4 linked regions of the Homo sapiens genome follow. The protein of the gene in region 3 interacts with the protein of the main gene of each other region in a biochemical or structural test. Each region holds a gene or a part of one and is shown on either strand. Other genes may lie near its edges.

Evidence for each region.
Region 1: the proteins of DLG2 (region 3) and PRKCA interact in a test that uses a peptide from one of them, tested with the Homo sapiens proteins (one large-scale study listed by IntAct).
Region 2: the proteins of DLG2 (region 3) and DUSP10 interact in a test that uses a peptide from one of them, tested with the Homo sapiens proteins (one large-scale study listed by IntAct).
Region 4: the proteins of DLG2 (region 3) and CLDN10 interact in a test that uses a peptide from one of them, tested with the Homo sapiens proteins (one large-scale study listed by IntAct).

What each region holds. Positions count from the first base shown.
Region 1 is NC_000017.11:66,683,613-66,687,112, reverse strand, and holds part of PRKCA (protein kinase C alpha type), read right to left. Parts: intron 3-3,500; coding exon 1-2. UniProt on the Homo sapiens protein: Calcium-activated, phospholipid- and diacylglycerol (DAG)-dependent serine/threonine-protein kinase that is involved in positive and negative regulation of cell proliferation, apoptosis, differentiation, migration and adhesion, tumorigenesis, cardiac hypertrophy, angiogenesis, platelet function and inflammation, by directly phosphorylating targets such as RAF1, BCL2, CSPG4, TNNT2/CTNT, or activating signaling cascade involving MAPK1/3 (ERK1/2) and RAP1GAP.
Region 2 is NC_000001.11:221,700,924-221,704,089, forward strand, and holds the end of DUSP10 (dual specificity protein phosphatase 10), read right to left. Parts: intron 1,755-3,166; coding exon 1,489-1,754; 3' UTR 501-1,488; downstream 1-500. UniProt on the Homo sapiens protein: Protein phosphatase involved in the inactivation of MAP kinases. Has a specificity for the MAPK11/MAPK12/MAPK13/MAPK14 subfamily. It preferably dephosphorylates p38.
Region 3 is NC_000011.10:83,467,293-83,472,644, forward strand, and holds part of DLG2 (disks large homolog 2), read right to left. Parts: intron 4,436-5,352; coding exon 4,334-4,435; intron 2,082-4,333; coding exon 1,909-2,081; intron 1-1,908. UniProt on the Homo sapiens protein: Required for perception of chronic pain through NMDA receptor signaling. Regulates surface expression of NMDA receptors in dorsal horn neurons of the spinal cord.
Region 4 is NC_000013.11:95,555,720-95,559,219, reverse strand, and holds part of CLDN10 (claudin-10), read right to left. Parts: exon of another isoform or gene 3,296-3,500; intron 1,722-3,295; exon of another isoform or gene 1,642-1,721; coding exon of another isoform or gene 1,596-1,641; intron 1-1,595. UniProt on the Homo sapiens protein: Forms paracellular channels: polymerizes in tight junction strands with cation- and anion-selective channels through the strands, conveying epithelial permeability in a process known as paracellular tight junction permeability.

The DNA of each region.
Region 1 (3,500 bases), on a different chromosome or scaffold from region 3:
TACTGTGAAGAGAGAAGGAAGAAAATATTACAAAAAGAGAACAGACCTATATTGCCCGCTGTCTTGTGTCAATACCAAGCTGAATAAAAGAGACGTCAGAATGGCGTTTAAGGAGACAGATGGTGGAAGCCAAAAGCCTCTAACACTCGACATGAGAAAAGCTACCCGCTGCCACCACCGGCAGAGATAATGGGCATCGTGTGGGCCCTTGTGGGTGGGTCTTGGGACTTAGCACCAGCCTGGACTGGCAGCATCAGCAACACTAAGATATCTATTAGAAATGCAGAAACCCAGGTCCCACCCCAAACCTGCCAAAGCAGAATCTGTAATTTAACAAGATTCCCAGGTGACCTTTGCAGCTCCCCAGGAGTAATGGTGCACCCTCCCTGCATGGAAGCGACCAGCCCAACCTGGTCTATGGTGCCACACACGCACCTGAGCTCCCAGAAGGTGTTATCCCTTTTTGTGGGTAAAGGCCAATGGCTTCCAACTCTGACTGTACATTGGAATCACATGGGGGTTGGGGAATGGGGGAGTTAAAAATTCTAATCCCCAGAATTAAACTAGAATCTCCAAGGAATGTGGCTCAAGTATTCGTTTTTAAAAGCTCCTTGGGTGATTCTACTGGGCAGCAGGGGCAAGCACCACTGCTGTATACAGTTGTAACTCAGAATTGCTGGTCCATGGACCGGCAGCATCTATATCACCTGGGAGCTCATTAGACATGCAGAACCTTGGGTCCCACCTCAGACTTAATAACTCAGAATCCTCACTTTAACAAGACCTCCAGGTGCTTCCAATGCAATCTTAGCTTGAGAAACCTGATATGGGAATCAAAAATAATTAGAAGGAAAGGCCATTTCATCCACAGAGGAAAACAGGCTCAAAGATTTAAGAGCTGGCAGAGGCTCACAACCATGAGAAGCTGTCTAAAGCCACTGCACGTCAACGTAAAAGATAATTATCTACTGCTATGATGAAGGGACAAAAGCCTGAGTCTCCTATCTCAAATGCCTTCCTATCTTCCCATGGCATCTTTCCCAGTAAGGCTGAATTATCAGATACCCAACTGGTCAGACACCATCAACACACATATAACTGGGACCAGGCTCCCTGATTCAGTGGTTCCCACAGTGTGGTCCCTGGACCGGCGGCACTGGCAACACCTCCTGAATCAGAACTCTGGGGTGAGGTCCAATGATCTGTGTTTACCAAGCCTCCAGGTGATTCTGATGTCCATAAAAGTTGCAGAACCACAGATCTAGGCAATTAGCATAGTTTATCAGCATAGTTTGATTATTAAATTAAGAATTACAGAAGAACTTGAGAAGAAGGCACTGGAGTTGTCAGTGGGCAGGGTTAGATGGGGAGGAGGCAGGGGGAGAACCCTAAAGATGTTGGGTCTTTGGACACAAATGAGGGAGGTACAGCCCTAAGATCGGAAGTCAGAGACAGGCATTGCCTTTACTAGTCTGTGGATCTACTGTGTTCTGCCTCCTGCCAGCCAACAGCCTTACATCCTCCTTACCTGGAAGCCTTACATAGGTAGGTAACAGATGGGACTATATTCAAATACAGAGGGGGAGGGGGCTAGCTCAGGTCTGCTAGCCACAGAGAAGCTGAACATAGTTTGTCATACCCCATTTGTGCCTTCCAAGTATTTCTTCTCCTAAGAAAATATCTAACCTCATTCATCTCAGGGAGCAGATAGCACACAAATAAAACACATAGGCATGGTCCCTGTGGCTCAGCAGGTGTACATGCAAACTCTGCCTCCTTCACCATGTAACCCTGAGCACTGGGAAGCTTAGTCTCTGAGCCTCTGTCTCTTCATCTAGAAAAATGAAGACGGACATAATTCCAGTGGTATAGAATTGTTGGGAGAATCAAATAAAATAATGTTTATAAAATACCTTACATGGTTGGGGGCTTGGAAAATGAAAAAATAAATCCATGGTGTGAGTGCTCACTATACCCCAGGCATGATGTTCCGGACTCCTTTCCACTCTTATCATGCTGGAATCTATAGGGTTGGAGGCCCCCAGGGGACTTGGTCACTGGAGAATTCACCAAGCTCATGTGAAAGGTTTTAATCCAATGCAGAAAGTCTAGCCCACTAAAACATCAACCCTGAGTATCACCAAAGATGAAAAATGTGAGCACAAAAATGGAGCTCTCCCATGAGGAATGGAAAGAGGCCAACGGTCTCTCTCTGATTAAACACCAGAATGAGAATCAGATGCTTTTTAAAAGGCAGAAAATGCCCTGGAATGTCTAATACTGGAGGCTGCAGAAGGTCACATCCTGGATAAGCCAAAGAAGACCCTTATTAAGGTCACCAAGAGGTCCTGGGTTGCCTCCTACCAGTTGCAGAATTATTGCGGGTGCTGGCTTTTATATCTTCAATTTATATTCCTGACAGACAACACACACAAAAAAAATCATTTAAGTAAGATCTCTTCGGAATGGTGATGAGTTAAAATCTTGATGGGATTTAAAGCTGTGAGTGTCCTACTGAGATACTACCATTTAAGTTGAAAATAAAAAGAGTTATCAATTCTAAATGTCATTGAAGCAAATAGTGGGTCCAAATTTCAATTTCTTATCACAGCAGAGAACAGCCTGTGTGAGTGTGACTCATGGCATGCCAGGACACCTGAATCAGGATTACGAGCAACTAACTTAGGGTCCCATCTGCTCAGAGTGTAGGATCTGGGGCAAGGCTGCCTGCATTTGAATTCTGGCTCTGCCACTCTGTGGTTGTGGACAAGCTATTTTATCTTCCTAAGTTTCCTCATCTGGAAAATTATATCTCCTTCAAGCAAGGATTATGTAGGCTCATCCATGTAAAGTGCTTAGAGCAGTGATAGGCACTCGGTGAGAGCACAATAGTGATGATCATAATTGCTCTTAATACAAGTTACTGGTGGAGAACAATCTTAGATGTGCAGAAACTGCACCAACAGCTTACGGAGTGGTAAGCAAATGCCGGGGAAAACAGTACAGTGTGGTAATGTTCTAACAGGGTTTCAACTGTATGGTTTCAAGAATGTCAGGCTAAGAGGCAATGCTAGGGGGCATTACTCATAGGAATAGTTGTAAGGAAGATGGAAGAGGGGAAGCTGGGGAAGCTAGGAAAGAGAAAATAAGAGGAAAATTGAAGTGGGGAAGCGGATGAGAACAAGGGCTAGAGACAGAAGAGAGAAACAAGGGAAAGATGTGATCAAGATGTGGAGTCAAATCCCAACACTTTGGGAGGCTGAGGCAGGTGGATCACATGATGTTGGGAGTTTGAGACCAGTCTGGCCAACATGGTGAAACCCCATTTCTACTAAAAATACAAAAAGAAGCCGGGCGTGCTGGTGGGCACCTGTAATCCCAGATACTCAGGAGACTGAGGCACGAGAATCGCTTGAACCCAGGAGGCGGAGGCTGCAGTGAGCTGAGATCATGCCACTGCACTCCAGCCTGGGTGACACAGTGAGACTCTATCCCCCCGA
Region 2 (3,166 bases), on a different chromosome or scaffold from region 3:
GCTGCAACGCATTACATGGTTAATGTCACCAAAGATGCCAAGTGAGCAAGTGACAATGGGGTGGGGGGGTGGGGGGAGGAACATCAAGATCCCTAAATGGAAGATTGTCCTAAGTATTTATCAAATAGCCACTAGGGAGATCACTGAATTCTCACCAATCAATCTGGCAGGGATTTGGTCACCAAGGCGCAAAGGCAGATGGGATCCCCTTAATGCAAGCCTTCCCCGATGCAAAAGGAATGATATTTGCAGGAGAGGATGACAGCATTGTGAGAATATAAGGGACAGTGACTGGGCAGATCAATACTGGAGCTCTTCCACTTCCTTGCTAACTCTGTTTCACAGTGAGAAAACTGGATATGTTCCCTTCCTCATCTCTCTTTCCCTATATAAAAATCTGTTTTATTTCAACTTTGTTGTATATGCAAGTTACCAGAGCTTAAGAAAGGCTTGAACCTGAGTTAAGGTAAAAGAGAGGGGAAAAAAAGACACATCCTAAACCAGTTTCATTTATATAATGAAAATAAATTTTTACACAATCAACAGAAACACACCAAGATTTTTTTTTTTTTTGCGAAAAATATTTTTAAATAAATTTTTTTTTCTTACATTCTGATATACATATGTAACAAGGTTTATGGCACTGTAACCAGAATCAAATCAGAAAAAAAAAAAAAAAAGGAAAAAGGTGGGAAGGAAAGTATTTGATATATTGTTGAATTCCTTTCTATCTCCAAGCTGGCAAATTTGCACTATTTGTCTATCATTCAGCTGCCAGCTCTAACTTGTTTGCACACTTAAAACATCATATTATTGCACAAGAAGCCAGTGAAGGCATATAATGGTCAGTTCCTCACTATTTCAAAAAAAATCTCTTAAACCCAGAGAAGGAAAAAAAAAAAAAATCCAGAGCATGAAACACACAAAATCAAAGGTATCCTTTTTCTCCTTAAAGAATGCCTGAAGGATTCTTAGACCACTTAAGCTGCCCTGATCTTCTCTTTGCACCAGTGAGCACAACAGGGCTTGGTTTGGTTGGGTTTTTGTTTTCTGTGTGGACAGCCCAGGTTGATCCCAGGCCTTGGTGATTCAATGTCTTTTCTATTTACTTTTGGTTCTTTTTAATTGGTTTAAAGTGTGTAGTATCTTCGGTCTATGAACCTGCACAGACTATTTAGTCATAAACTCTACAAATAGCTTAAAAGGAAAAGGGGGAGAAACAAGTTGTATTATATTTTTATTGTTGGCTTAAAAAAATTACTTCTTTAACCTCCTTAATTTGTCAGTTTGTGGGAGGTGAATCTCAATGGCATCAAAAGTTATAGTCTTCTTACACTTGTTAAAAATAAAGTGTTTAAACAAGTTTGTTTCCATTCACAAACTTACTCCCAACTACAAAAAAAAAAAGAAAGAAAAAAAACCAGAATCCATCCTCCTTCCTCATTGTCTCCTAATGGAGAGCAGCAATCCTTTCCATCCAGACCATTGTCACACAACCGTCTCCACGCCCATCAGCTTTGGTGTAAGGATTCTCGGTGTCACACCGTTGTTTAGGTCTTCCTCGAACTCTAGCAACTGCCCCATGAAGTTAAGGTTTGGGGAGATAATTGGTCGTTTGCCTTTGACAAATTTATAAGCATCAGTCATGGTCATCCGAGTGTGCTTCATCAAGTAAGCGATGACGATGGTGGCGGAGCGGGACACCCCAGCCTGGCAGTGGATGAGAAGCCCCTTCCCACACTGGTGAGCTTCCTCTGAAAAAAGGGAGAAAGACAAGAGATGAAGGGAAGATGGAAGAGAGAGGCACGGAGAGAGAAACTTTCATCTCAACTTTGCAATGCCTTATTTTGTATAGAAATAATGAATTAAAACAGTTTTAAAGCCAAGTATAATCCACTAGTTCATTACGTATACTTATGTCACAACTTCCAGAACTGGCTAAAGTTGATATCAGCACGAACAAGAAGCTATACATCTACATTTAAAGAGAAGATTAAATGAAAGAATTGCTCATAGGAACAGTTTGCTGCACAGGTGACAGCAGTGGCCGGAAGCCAGACCTATAACACAGTTAACTTTCACGTTGAACAAGCTACTGATCAAGTCGACTCTAACAGTCACTGAACCTTCTCTCAAATGTCTTGTTCTCTTTTTTTCTGGAATTACACTACTGAAAGAAAAAAAAAGAATGAAGGAAAAGGAGAGAGGAAGGGGAAAAATTATACACACACATGAAAATATACACTCACACATATATATGTATATGTATGTGTGTGTATGTGTGTGTGTGTGTGTGTATATATATATATATGCAGTTCCTCTTTGGATTAAGGATGTTAATTCCAATTTTCGGTTGTGTGACTTAACAAACCTAGTGCTAGTAACAACTCTCTCACTTGTAATAGAGAAAAAACACTTTCTTTATTCTATAGAATTGCTCTGTACAGGAACGGGCATTAAATGGATAAGAGTTTTAGTCTTACTAAACCCTGATTAAGGTTAAAGGAATAAAGCTTAACTAGGAAGATACTATGTTCAGCTTCTCCCCAGAAAATCCAGTTGTTGCAAAGTTAACTAAAGGCTAGTAGTATACAGGCCGAGGGTGTCACCTCTCAAGCATTCAATCCCGTTTGCTTCCATGTATGACATTCCAGTGTGGCAATAATGCAGAAGATGGAGGAATCCCAGCAATGGCTCAAAATCCAGAGCAATTGAAAGAGGAAGACTTGCTAAGTTTTCAAATATATTAAAAGCTCAGGACAATAGCATGTGGGCACTACCTGAACAGATTCTTAATGACATTTCTAGACTCTAACACATCCCTAAGAAAGCTTCCTTGAAGGAACACCAATTAGATAAACAGGTAGGGAAGGAGAAGGGGTAGAGAGAGTAGTGATTTCACCTAAACTACATCTACTGGCTACCCACCAGTGGACCAAGGAAAAAAAACCTGATGTAAATTTTCATCTTAAAAATTTACAGATGAAGTTTACTTCTCATAGTCAACAGTATTTCAAGAAAAGTAAGCATCTCTCTTTTTCAACTTTTTCCCTTCAGCACACGGTATTTAGCTCCAAGTCAAGACCAGAAAGCATGGTGGTGAGAGAATGAGCTTCTGAGTGCCTGGCTGGACCACCGGTTCCACTACACACACTTGATTCAGGAA
Region 3 (5,352 bases):
AACAGAATTGTTGGTTGGAAAAAATAGACACCTCATTGTCTCACCCTGCCCAACATTCGGTGTGGAAGATTGAGAATAATGTGAATTTTTCCAAGTACTTGTACATATCCTGTCTGCAAGGTACTCAGTCTAGTGGAGGGCAGACACAAAAATGGTTAACTTAAACATATGGTTGGTTGGGTGCAGTGGCTCATGGCTGTAATCCTAGCACTCTAGGAGGCCGAGGCGGGTGGATCACCTGAGATCAGGAGTTCGAGACCAGCCTGACCAAAATGGTGAGACCCTGTCTCTGCTAAAAATCCAAAAAGTTCACCAGGCATGGTGGTGGGCACCTGTAATCCCAGCTACTTGAGAGGCTGAGGCAGGAGAATCACTTGAACCCAGGAGGTGGAGGTTGCAGTGAGCTGAGACCGTGCCATGGCATTCCAGCCTGGGCAATAAGAGTGAAATGCCATCTCAAAAAAAATAAAAACTATATGTATATATATATATATATATATATATATATATATATATATACACACACACATATAAAATATATAATTAAAACATATATATATATATATATATAAATTAAATGCGGGTTAAATGCCAAGAGAGAAAGGCTTGCATGAGGTATGTAAATTTCTTGTTTGTTAACAAATAAAAATGCTATTACATTATAGCACACCTCATTTAACTTGGCTTCCACCACAATGAGTGCTCAGAGCAAGCAGCTGCTTTATAAAGCATTTCTGGATATGCAGATACATTTGCCACATCATATTCTACCTCCTGGAGAGAAATGTCCTCATTACCCTGAGGCTAGAATAACTTTATGCAAGAAGAGAAAAAAGGCACTTTATGCAGATAGGAACAATACTAAATCAATAATAAGGGCTAAAATCTCATCTATAATGTTCACATGAAAATGAATACAGTCCAGTGAATACTTGAAGTCTTCTTATCTGAGAAACCCACTAAGATGGTTCAAGCCGTTATTACTTAGGTAATAGATTTCAAGTTTTCTATCTGTGAAGTGCAGCAGCCACATAACATGTATAAATGCTGGTTGATTATTCACCAGTCAGAACATTTCAAGTTAACAACATGAACAAAGAGGAAAATAGGTGCAATTATCCAGGACAGTTTGACTAGAACCAGTATTCATTTAGTTGATAGAACTGAACTTTTGAGAGGGAGGAAAATAGATGCAACTTCTTAGTGTATTCTTAGATAGACATCAAAATTACTTAATTCTTTAGCGGTACATTGAGAAAGGTCATGGCAAATCAAATCAACCCAACAAATATCTTCTCCTATGATACTGGTTCTCTGTGTTCACAGGAAATAGGATCCCTCTGTAGGCAGATTGTGTAGCCACACCCAGGTGCCTTCCTATGGTACCCTCTCTTGAACATTCTTCTCTTTTCCATGCCCCTGAAGTTACCAGCAAAAAGATAATAGCAGCATCTACACCTCCTCTAAGCTAGAACTTCTGCGAGCAAAAGGCTGGGCAGCCCTTCTCATCTATCTTCTCTTCTACCATGAGGATGTCAAGTTTTCAGAGAGAGAGAAAAAAAATAACTTCCTCTAACAAAATAATTCAGGAATGCTATCCCCTTGGTTTACAACTAAAGTAGTAAACCTGCCTTAATAAAATCAAGGTTGTGTATTGGGGCCTCAGATAGTGAGTCAAAGACAAAGCCCTCTTCCTACTTTTTCCAAGTCAGTGAGAATACTTTATTGAAATTAGAACAAAGATTAATGACATTGCTCTAAGGTGATTCTCTGCTTGGATGTTTTAAATTATTAAATCAAAATTTACAATTGCAATCAAGAAAGAGTAATGACCAAAAAAAAAAAAAAATGCAGTTTGCAACCTAGAAACCTTCTTCAGGGGAGGTGTAAGAAGATTGGTGAACATACTCTTTCTGCTACAAATCTCACAGACTGCACACTGGTTCCATATAAATTGTCATTGTACTGGCCGGCTTCTATAAACTTGTGCTCTTGGATATCTTTCTCCATTTGTTCTCTGGAAATGACAAAGTGATAGTCTCTGCCATCCACCTCGTAGTCTCGCTTTGGCCTCGTAGTATCTTTATAAAACAAAAAATGATAAAATTAAGGTGCATTTATACCCATAAACTTGCTTTACACCTATATTCTCCACCACATCCTCAACATTGATATGTAGAAATATGTAGTATGAAGAAATATGACATAGTAACAGGTACTAGTCTTACCCTCCCACCATAAGCAACTAAAAAACTGGACAAAATATATGAAACAACTGTTTTCAGATATCAGACAACAGGAAGTACAGGGCTGTAATCTTTGAGAAAAGAGAAACATATGAGAGAGCATTCACCCCACCTCTCTACCTAGAGGCCATTTCCAAATGGAGAGTTTAGACATCACATGGTGCTAGAAGACACGGGAGTTGAGTCAGAACCCATGGAGATCCCAGAAAGGCCACATTTTAAAAGGTTACTCTAGACTTACTCTACACCCATCTTCACAAAGTCTAAAACCATGTCACAAATGGAAGAAGCTGCTGTGTCAGTAAATTATCACCTGTCAGAACAAAAACTTAACATTCTATAAAGGACCATAAAATTCAGACTCTCAACATATATAAAATAAGATAATCACAGTTAGATAGGACTAAAAATCAGCAACTCTAACCATTTCACCTAAATTTTTTGGTAAGAAGAGAAGGGGAAAGCAATCTAGCAATATGAATAAAAGCTGTTAAAATATTTTTAATCTTTGACTCACTTATTTTTTCCTAGAAATATGTTTTTAAAAATGATCAAAACTTCAGATACAGATTTATCCTTAAAGATATTCATTATATTATTTTATAAGTAATAATTATAACACAATTACGATGATATTTTTGTCACAATTCATAATAGTGAAAAATAGGGAAAAACCAAAATGTTCATAAAGAATGATTAATTGGGATATAATAATCATTTGAAATAGTTATATAAAATTTTAAATAAGCAAAAAAATCATCACAGAGAAAAAATGCATGCATAGAAAGAATAGATGGAAATGTACAAAAATATTAACAATGATGTTATCTCTGGGTATTGTGTGGGATTTTGTATACTTCTAATTTTCTCGTTTAACTTTCTTTTTAGTGTTTTTGAAGTTTTGTACAATGAACATCTATTGACTATCACAAAATGGTTCTATTAATTCAAAAAAGAGAGAATATGCAAGGTGAAAGGGAAAGCAGAAAGAATGCTTAAGTACCTTCTGTTTTCTTTCTCTCAAAAGTGGAGGAGCAAGCTGGAAGCTTGCTGTAAACGACCTGGAGTTTCATTTGCTCCTTCCTGTCTGAAGACTTTCTCAGGATATGTTCTATGGCAGGATCTCTTCCCAGAGCCCTTGCTGGGAATTGTTTCATGAGATACAGCAATCATCCTAGTCTTTTGGCCATGTACTGGACACATACAATTCCTGCTATTCTTAAGTATCTCATGTAAAATTTGCAGTACTGGAATGTTAGAGACACTTGAAAGCATCAGGCTTAAAACACATAGAATGGAAGAGAAATATTTGTTGGTATCAGATGTAAGAGCTCCATTATCTAATAAATTAAAATTTCCTGATGGACCTGTCTACATACGTAGAAGGTCTGCATGCATTTCTGTTTGACAGAGTCGGGGTGTAGACGGGGTGAATGAGTGGAGAAAGTATGGTAGGGGTGGGGAGGGGAAGAGGCAGAGCAGTTAGAATCTAATAAGGCTACAATCAGAGGGACCAGAAGCCTGATGATAATCTATAATGAGAAGAAAGTAGTTTAAAGTCTGTAATGGCCTAGAGGTCAAATTGAAGTGTTACACATTTTCTTGTCTTCACCCTCCCTAAACCTGGGACTGTCAACATGGGAAAGCCTATTGGGTTTTGGGATTGACATATGGCCCTAAGTCATCCTGAGAGGATTTTAATATATGGCTTTGTTTCCGATCTCTTCCATCCTATAAAAAATAATGTTTCAGTGGCATTTTGATCAATCTATGAAAACATACTGATGCCTATCATAAATCCTATGCTGTTTTAAATGGTTGGGGGCCACAAAAATTCATCCTGCCTTTTAAGGGGCTACAATCAGTTTAGAGAAAACATTATTATTTTTATTAAATACAGAATGACACACGGCAGCATAAATGAAAAGTGTTAGGCAAATAAATTAAATAAGGCACTCAGCTAATCGGAAATGGTTGGTATTTGAATTACTGGAGAGACTACTGGAGGATGGAATTACATTTTACCATCTCATAAAGAAATCCAAGCTCTTTTTGTTTTTCCTAGAGGAAAGAAAAATGACACTTACGAGGCACACAGGAGCCAAATTTATCAGGGAATTCAGATATCAAGTCGTCATTGATCCGATCCTTCATGGGCCCCAGGATAATCACCGGCCGGGTGTAGTTTACTGCAGAATGGGAAAGGAAGATGTAGGTAAAGAGAAAGAGTTGGAAACAACTGCAAAACTGTCCTGCAAGGGTGATTCTTAATTGCCAGACAGTAAGAGATGCTAAGGGCATTACTTCACTGGATAAATTACTCATACAGCCTTGCATAGGGAAATTGATGTTTAACACTCAGGAGATTGGCAGTGCCTACTTTCTGGAATCTACTAGCAGGGAAAGGCAATTGCAGTATCTGTTGATGAAAAGAAACATTTGGAGGAGTTTTGCTTACTCTCTGGCTCTGCCTACATAATGTCAAAACAACTGAATTTAGTCAACTGAGTGGGAGAAAAAAGAATCCAAACCAGCTGTTTGGCTATTGTTTAGATATGACTATAAAAAGTAATTGTTAGTAGTAATAACATCTTATGTTTTCATGATTTCTTTTCCCCAGATCAAAATACTCTCTATACTTTGCTACAGTTTCTAGATTTCCTTGTATCTGGGATTAGAAGGAACCTGAGAGTTCATTGGGTACAAGTCCCCATCTGATGCTTGAATTCTCTCTGCAGTATCCTTGTCAGTAGCAATTAGCCTCTGTATAAATGCCTCCAGGAAAAAGCAGCAGCTTACAGATAGCCTACATCTTAGGCAGATCTGCTAGAAAGTCATTCTCAATACTGAGCTGACATCAGTCTCTCAGGAGAATTTATTCACCAGTCTCGTAGCTAGTGCTCTTTAGGTAATTTGAATGTGTTCCTTCCCATTGAGGACCACTCATCTGGAGGGCTGCATCCTTCTCTTAGGTGCTATTAGTGCCCATACTCAGCAGGAAGTTGTCTGTTTGGTGATAGGGTCAAAGAGAGAGAAAGTGAGAGACAGCGTAAGAGTAAGGTACGGTCTCAAGACAACAGAGCATTAAGCCGAGTTTATTCTCCTT
Region 4 (3,500 bases), on a different chromosome or scaffold from region 3:
TTTCAGCCTGAAACAATGCCATATTTCGATCTAAAATAGTGATAGTAGCACATACCGGGTGTAAGTAAGTATCTGCTAAGCAAATAAACATATATACCTACATCAGGTTTACGTTTGGAATTAAACTTTTTAACTGGAAAAAACCTCTTATGTGTCAATATATGATAAGTCATTTATTATTGGTGTTCAAGCAGAGCCATGATAAATAATAATTCCGAGACCATGATAATCATGAATTTAGGGAGTACATACTAGTGGCCTCCAGTTCAGTTTCTTTTTTTCTTTTCTTTTTTTAACACAGGATCTCACTTTTGCCACCCAGGCTGGAGGGAAGTGGCATAATCATAGCTCACTGCAGCCTCAAATTCCTGGGTTCAAGAGATCCTCCTGCCTTAGCCTTCTGAGTAGCTGAAACCATAGGCGCTTGCCCCCACCTATGGCTAATTTTTAAATTTTTATAGAGACAGTGTCTCGCTGTAATGCCCAGATTAGTCTCGAATTCCTGGCCTCAAGCGATCCTCTTGCCTTGGCCTCCCAAAATGCTGGGCTTAAAGGCATGAGCCACTGCACCTGGCCCCAGTCTGTGTTTCTTTGGAAAAGAATGAAATTGAAGTTTTAATCCTATTCCTTGGACCCATTTTTGAAGAGCAAACAGGAGCTGCTCTACTTAATTGTAAACACTTTAGACTCCCACAAATGCAGACTGCAAGGACAGTGACCTTCCATTGTGTAGTGTGAAATATTTCCATACAGAAAACAATTTCACTAACACCGTGGCTATCAAAAACAGCAAAACAAACTTATTTTTAGCAAAACAGGATAATGAAGGCTTCTTTCATAGCAATCATTGTGCTGCAGGGCTATCTGGGTCTCCGCTGCCAAATGCTGAACCAGCTGTATTTTAAACTTCAGTCCTCGAGCTCCCCAGCCAGAGCCCAGACAGCAGGTAGAGGCAAGACAGAGAGGGGAAGCCTGTCAGTCCCTTGCAAGTTTGAAGAGAGCCTGTGAGGATAACCCAAACTGGTTCATCACTTGCCACCAGGGCTACTCGGACAGTGTGGTTTCGCTCTTTTTGTGAAATTCATTTTAATCTATGGTTTTGAGGTTTTATAGCTGACTCTGACTGCAGTCATTAAATAAACAAAAAAATGGGGGACTCATCCATTTATATATACTCCCAGAAAACATTAGCATGTACCCTAATTTGCATTGCCTTTAGTTACTTCCATGCTTTGTTAACAGAAAGTGCAAGTTGTCGGGAATTTACCAAAGGTTAAATTCTACAATCTGGTCATTTAGAACGCGGAATGCATTTCCCAGATGATAAACAGTGGGTAGAATCCCAGGCCAACCCATTCGATTCTTAATACAACAGGGAAAATAACAGTAGTCTTTGAACTTTATGTAATCACCACTGATAACATTTTTCCCGAGTTTCTCACTCTGAGATGCCCCGTCCCAGCCCTGGTATTGGCAGCAGGACCCACTTTGGTCTCTTGACACAAGCATGAGAGGAGAAGTGGGCAGGGCAGATTCTGATCTGGTCAGGTCCTTCTTTTGTGCCAACCAGAACCCGGATTTGGAAAATGAGGTACCTTTCTCCAGCATGAACAGCAGCCATAACTTGTTAATTTTGCGCATGCACAAAGAAGGCAATTTACAAGGACGATCATTGGCCAGATTTTCTGAAATGGAGAGCAAAGAGCAGGGGATAAACTCCCCTGCCAGCCATAAATGTAATGGAGTTGCTCGTAAGCCTGAGATTTGTAAATTCTCAGTGTTCTAAGGCTACCAGTCCTTACAACACCCACAGATTGGAGCCAAGATGATTCCAACAAACCCTTTCAGAGTTCATCTTTTGCAAAGCAGACCTCTACAGCCTTGCTTTCTAACAGTTCCTGAGGGCAAAACTTACAAGTAACACCACCAGGAGAAGTGTTAGTAAAAACCTAGTCAAGGAGGCCATTATTTTTGACAGGTCTAATTTACTGACACTGTTAATAGCTAATTAACACATTAAGGTGCTGAGGCATGAACATATTTATTTAGAAGTTCTCTGAAGTATAATTTATAGTTAGTTCTCCTGGGAGAAATGGCAAGCATTCCCACTAGCAAAAATAGATGGCATACACTAAAAACAAGCTGGCTGAAAATCATACTCAGCTGAAGTTCAAGTGGTACTTTGAAAGGAGTATGGGTTAACAATAAACAGAAATCACAAGCTCATTCAGCTGTGAAATTTTCAAATAGTAAAATACAGTGACTTTAAATTAATGAACTCTGTTGGAGGAAAGCTTCAAGGTGTTCCTTAAAAGTTAAGTGTTTTCCAAATTATGTGTACTTTATTTTCAATTGCAAATCAGCAAAAAACGAAAACATCCACTTGGTGGAGACAATTCGCTAATAGCACCTGTGCTAGTTGATGGATTTAGGGGGGAAAAAAGAATGTGCTTTTCTTTTCCTGGTAGCTTTGTGTACTTCTGCAAATCCTTTGAGAGAACAGTGGTATGGGGAGGGCAGGAACTCTGAGTTTCACCTCTGGTGCTTCTATTTACCCAAGGTATGTACTTGGTTATAGGACCTAATCTCTTTGAGGCTCAGTTCTCTCATCTGTAAAACAGGGATGGCAGCACCTCCTTCACAGGATGAATAATATGGATGTCTGCTGAGCAGTAAGAAAGTCATCAAAGCATCCCGTCATATTATAATACTACAATGGATTCTAAGCAGAAATTAGAGCTGGGTTCTTAATATGGCATAACGTTAAATCTAGACATATAGCTTTGCTAGGCCTCATTTTTCTTATAAGGAAAACAAGTGGCAATGATACCCCTAGGGGAGGGGAATCAGAGATTTCTTTATATAAGAAATTTAGGGCTGGGCGCATGGCTCATGCCTGTAATCCCAGCACTTTGAGAGGCAGAGGCGGGCAGATCACTTGAGGTCAGGAGTTCAAGACCAGCCTGGCCAACATGGTGAAACCCTGTCTCTACTAAAAATACAAAAATCAGCCAGGTGTGGCAGTGGGTGCCTGTAATCCCAGCTACTCAGGAGGCTGAGGCAGGAGAATTGCTTGAACCCGGGAGGTGGAAGTTGCAGTGAGCAGAGATCATGCCATGGCACTCTGTCCTGGGGGACAGAGTGAAACTTTGTCTCAAAAAAAAAAAGAAAAGAAATTCAGAATAATGACCTCGTCGTTTGACTCCAAGAGTTCTTCTACCTAACACAAGATAGGCAAGAGTCACGAGCCTTCTCTCTCCCTTCCTGGATTCTCTTCCCAATCTAGAGCTCATACCTGGGTTTAAGGGGAGGGCTGTTCCACTCAGGCCACCATGGCCACTTTCTCCAAAGGCAATGTCAGGACCAGCACCCACCAGATGTGGCTGACCTGGGAATGCAAGGTAGAGGACAAACAGAGGGCCCCTACCCTGGAAGCTTCCACTTGCAGGTGGGGGAATCAACTCCCCTCCACAGGAAAACACAGTTGCATGATTTAACCC